Regions from separate parts of the Homo sapiens genome. Here region 2 is linked to region 1. Evidence: fine-mapped expression QTL. Tissue or cell type: whole blood. Region 1 holds a variant in brackets; the other region holds the start of a gene. All regions are shown on one strand. Distances are from middle to middle.

Region 1 (2,756 bases):
GGCCTTATTATTTTATTATTATTATTTTTTGAGATGGAGTCTCGCTCTGTCCTCCAGCCTGGAGTGCAGTGGCGCAATCTTGGCTCACTGCAACCTCTGCCTCCTGGGTTCAAGCAATTCTCCTACCTCAGCCTCCCAAGTAGCTGGGACTACAGGTGCGCATTACGATGCCCAGCTAACTTTTTGTATTTTTAGCAGAGACGGGGTTTCACCATGTTGGTCAGTCTGGTCTCGAACTCCTGACCTCGTGATCCGCCTGCCTGGACGACAGAGAAAGACTCTGTCTCGAAAAATAAAAAATAAAAAAAAAAAATAATAATAATAATACCTAAATTGATGCACATAAAGTGTTCAGAACAGTTACTTCCTGCACAATAAGTGTTCACAAATTGCTACTTACTATAGAAGGGAAATTCTTGTGAGATGTGAGTTTCAGAATCTGTGTTTTAGCTAGAAAAGAAATTCACTTATTTGATCATAAATGATTTTTGGCCCGGCATGGTGGCTCACGCCTGTAATCCCAGCACTTTGGGAGGCTGAGGCTGGTGGATCACGAGGTCAAGAGATCCAGACCATCCTGACTAACACGGTGAAACCCCGTCTCTACTAAAAATACAAAAAATTAGCCAGACTTGGTGGCGGGCGCCTGTAGTCCCAGCTACTCGGGAGGCTGGGGCAGGAGAATGGCGTGAACCTGGGAGGTGGAGCTTGCAGTGAGCCGAGATCGGGCCACTGCACTCCAGCCTGGGCGACAGAGCGAGACTCCAGCTCAAAAATAAATATAAATAAATAAATGATTTTTTTGGTCAGTGTTTACTAAATATCTACAATTATGCCAGCTACTGCAGTAAGAATCAAACAGTTCCTGGATGGAAAAACAATTTTAAGATATGATCACTGACCTCAAACAGTTTACTGGAGTGAAATTACTAAAATATGTGAATCAAGGTAGAGTTACGTGCCGCTAACTGGAGTACACATGAAATTCATGTTGATGGGAGCGGAGAGAAGGAAGTAAGCAGTCTGTGCTGAAAGAGAATGGATAAAAATTGACCAGTCAGGGAAGGGGAGACGCATAATTCAGGCCAAAAAAAAAAAAAAAA[G/AG]CCACTTGAGTAAAGGAATAATACAAGATTGATAAGACGAGCGTAGAGGGAACTAAGAACAAATATGTGCCCAGGCGCGGTGGCTCACGCCTGTAATCCCAGCACTTTGGGAGGCCAAGGCGGGAGGATAACTTGAGGTCAAGAGCTCAAAACCAGCCTGGCCAACATGGTGAAACCCCGTCACTACTTAAAAAAAAAAAATAGCCGGGCGTGGTGGCATATATCCGTAATCCCAGCTACTCGGGAGGCTGAGGCAGGAGAATCGCTTGAGCCTCGGAGGTGGGGGTTGCAGTGAGCCGAGATCACATCACTGAAAAAAAAAAAAAAAAGGCAGGGTGGGCACATCACCTCAAGTCAGGAGTTCAGGACCAGCCTGGCCAACATGGCGAAACCCTGTCTCTACCAAAAACAAAAAAAATTAGCTGGGTGCAGTGGCGCACGCCTGTAGTCCCAGCTTCTTGGGAGGCTGAGGCAGGAGAATCGCTTGGGCGGGGTGGGGGTGGGGGTGGGGGTGGGGGCGGAGGGGCGGAGTTTACAGTGAGCGAAGATCATACCACTGCACTCCAGCCTGGGTGACAGAGCGAGACTCTGTCTAAATAAATAAATAAATAACAAATAGGTGGGTGGGACCAGATTATGGGTGGCTTAAAATCCAGGTATACCAGCTGTCTTCCTGGAAATAAAGAGGAGCCACTTTAGTTTTGAGAATGTGGTCTGAGCCAGGTAGATAAACTGGGAGCTCGGGCTGAAGTGTAAGACTTCAGAAAGATGTTCCATACGTGAATGTTCATTTAAACGTGGGGGTGTTAAGCAACACACGTGACCCAGAGACATTTCACCTGGAAACCGGAGTAGGGCCCACGCACCAAGTCCCTGATGTTTAATTGCAGTCTAGAATGTTACTGACTAGTTCACTCAATTTAACAAAGTGTCCGGAGGTCGCTCACTGGATTGTTATGCTGGTGACTGGGCCTTGTTTCACTGAGAAAAAAAGATGGGAAAGGGTGACAGGACGGTGAGAAAGTGAAAGGGAGAGAGGTGGGAAAGGGGTCTGCCAAGGTCCAGGCGAGGTTGGGGGTCGGGGGTCCGGCGGCCCTCAGGGCCCCCCCCGCCCCCAACTCCGGGGTTGGCGCCTCGGGCGCGGCGCGTGTGCTTGCGGGCGGGGCGCCCCGCGGCCGCGGACGGCCAATCCGGGAGGGCGTCCGGGGAGGGGCGGGGCTTGCCGGCTCGGGCTCCGCGAGTCCTCCTTTTTGCACACACACGAATACAAAGAGCCATACGACCTTCGGGTATCCTTTTTCCATTTTTTTTCCTCCTTAATCTTGTGTGTGTTTTCAAATTTTTTAAAAATAGAGATCTGTAGCAGTGTTGGGGTGAGGAAACTGTTGCTAAGGGGAATTTGCTCTTTCCCCCATTTCTTTTTCTGTCTCTCTTCCTCTTTCTTTTTCCTGGTCAAGGTTTTAAATATACCAAGAAGTTGAGAAGCAGGATGGCCGTGTACAACCGTTTCCGGCCAAATTTATAGTTTTTTTTTCTTTTTTTTAAATCACATTTTAAGAACTGGTAGATTTTTGTGGTTGAGGGACTTTAAAAATTTAGCCGCTTGGGAAGTACAGAATTTTTTAAGCGGGCTGAAGGGATAATGTAAATTTC
Region 2 (2,613 bases), 92 kb after region 1:
TTAGCCTATCCAAGACCCAAAGGGGCCTAGTTGTATTCCCTACTTAGGAAGCTGAGCAATGACTATTGTAGTCCTGGATATAGGCCTTTCTGACCAGCTACAGTGAGCTCTTGTCCATTAGAACCTACAGTTAGGCTTTTCTCTGGGGAGGAGGCATAGAGTTTGCCACCTTGGAAAAAGATGGAATAGTGAGTGAAGCCAGTTTCTCTTCTGTATTCTTGAGCTACTGCACGGGCAACTGGTTACCTCTCCTTTGTTACCTCTTGGGAAGACTGGAATCCATCCAGGAATCTCCAGCAAGAAGCTACCTGTTTTTTTTGAATAAAACCACAGGGTTACAGTTTGAAGTCCTAAGAGATCATCTAGTCCAATTTTCCATTTTACAGAGGGGGAGTTTGAAATGGGTACAATGATGTGATATTAGTATCCAAGTCAGAATTGGAAGTCAGGTCCTCCGACTCTGGCTCTCCCCATGTTATAACCAGCTACATTTTTGGTAGCTACAGTAGACCACAGAAGTGTCTAGGGGCTCCTGGAGGCCCCTGGAAAGTGAGGGTGGACATCAGTTCCTTCTTTCCGGTTAGAGGACTCAGTACTGCTACATCCAAGGAGTCACCTGAGAAACTTTCAAATTTACCCTTGCAGTGGGAAATGTGGGGGTACTGATTTGAACGGAAGTTATGACCTGTGGGAGCAGGCCATGACGATAGGGCAGAGTGTGGGCCAAGACAAGTCTGTGGCAAGATCTGCTTTTCCCTGGTCCCAAGCACCGAGGTCAGGAGAGGTGGTCGGGAAGGTTGTTTAGGTAGCCGGCTCAGAACGGGGATTTCGAGTTCAGCATCCCCGGACGTTAAACAAACGCCGCTGTTCTCTACAAAGCTTAACCTTAACGACCGACGTGACTCCTTCAGCAAATCCGAGTAGGGACGGCCAAGGATGTAAATTGTGCCTCCTCGTTGGCTCCGCCCATCGCACTGGTCTAGTCTACGCGAGCACCAGGAGTGGGGTTGGTGGCTTCTTCACTCCCGTTTTCAGTCCCGTTTTCCCCGCCCTCCGCAAGTCATTTAACCAATGAGAGAGTGATGGGCGGCTACCAAAGGACGCTTCCATTTTCTGGAGTCTCTGAGGTTAGCCAATCAATGGGAACTCGGTGGTTGCTAAGACGCATTTGAGTTTGCTCCACCCATACTTAGGACTTTAGCCAATGAGAACCTGTACTTTGGACGGTTGCCGCGAAACCAGTGAGGTTATTTCCAAAGCCGGGGAGTCTTGGCGCATGCGCAGATTGGGGAAGGTTCTGGAAGACGGCAGAGCTGCCGCCATTTTGCGGGAAGAGGAGGCTCTGTACCTGCAGTGCTGCTTTTCTTGCCTAGACTCTAGGAACTATCCGAGCTCCACTCCCCACAACATACTCAAAGGAACGGAGAGAACCGGGACCCCCCTGCGGGGACCCGGAACTGGTGAGAAACCCCAAAACCCGGTCCCCACCAGACGTCACCAATGCGTGACGTTGCTGCACGGCGCCTCCCCCCTGACGTCACGGGCAGAAAATGGCGTCACGAAGAGATTCAGGCGAACTTTTAACATTAAAAAAACCTTTGTTTGTTTTGACCTGGAAGTGTTAGCTACTTAAATGTAGCCCACTGCCACGATTTTAGAGTTGGGCACCCTCGTGGCTGTATCTTGCACCGATAAAGATGCGGTTTCTAGAATCCTGTGATTTTTCTTTCCGGGTCTCTGCAGCCGTGACACTTAGGGTCGCCCACACTGGAGAGGGAGCATCGACCCTCCGCGGCCTGAGAGGACACGCATCATCAGTTTCAGCCACTCGCACCACCATTCAGAGAGAGAGAAGGGAATTGAGCTTTCTTCCTCAATCTCTAGTCTGTCGAAGATTCATGTTCACTATGTTGACCTTTATGGGCTTTTCCCATTTAACTTTTTCAAGCACTCATTCCAGTAGGCGTATTATGATGCCACATATGAAGATTGAGCCCTGGGACACTGGCTCCCGCAGAGATTGTGCCAGTTGGTTGCCTATAGGACCTCTTTTTTTTTATTTTTTTAAGGCGGAGTGTCGCTTTGTCACCCAGGCTGGAGTGGAGTGGCGCGATCTCGGCTCACTGCATCCTGTCTCCCGGGTTCTAGCGATTCCCCTGCCTCAGCCTCCCGAGTAGCTGGGATTACAGGCGCCTGCCACAACGCCCGGCTAATTTTTGTATTTTTAATAGAGATGGGGTTTTGCCATGTTAGCCAGGCTGACCTCGAACTCCTGACCTCAGGTGATCCACCCGCCTCGGCCTCCCAAAGTGCTGGGATTACAGGCGTGAGCCACCGCGCCCGGCCTATAGGACCATTTTTTAAAGCTACACAACATGGGGAGGGTGGTCCTTCAAGTAGCTTTTATCGTTCTCATTGTTCCTCTTTTGTTAAGCTGCCTTCAGTTTGTAGGTGTTTGTGCCCAGCTAAGTGATCAGACCCTGGGGATGGCGCTACCATCACCCCTGGGGCTCCAGCTTTTCGTGAATTCTTCCCGAATTGGTCTGACAGTGGTTCTCTCTGCTCCTTTAGCAGTGGGGTCTATCTGTTGGCTTGTGCTATGACGAGGTCTAG

What was found. PIP is the estimated chance that this variant, and not a neighbour inherited with it, causes the effect.
Region 2: it holds the start of RBM23, and the variant in region 1 is fine-mapped to the expression of RBM23 in whole blood (INTERVAL, PIP 0.98).

Annotation. Positions count from the first base shown.
Region 1 is chr14:23,009,737-23,012,492 of GRCh38, reverse strand. C14orf93 (chromosome 14 open reading frame 93) reads left to right here and starts at 2,350. Exons shown (of 7, transcript NM_021944.4): 1 at 2,350-2,392. RefSeq lists a silencer at 2,012-2,361. The variant G/AG (reference allele first, on the strand shown) is at 1,104.
Region 2 is chr14:22,917,846-22,920,458 of GRCh38, reverse strand. RBM23 (RNA binding motif protein 23) reads left to right here and starts at 1,310. Exons shown (of 14, transcript NM_001077351.2): 1 at 1,310-1,460. It overlaps PRMT5-AS1 (PRMT5 antisense RNA 1), which reads right to left and starts at 1,003. Exons shown (of 2, transcript NR_120600.1): 1 at 1-1,003. RefSeq lists a silencer at 936-1,235 and enhancers at 1,496-1,565, 1,656-1,765, 1,836-2,005, 2,494-2,613.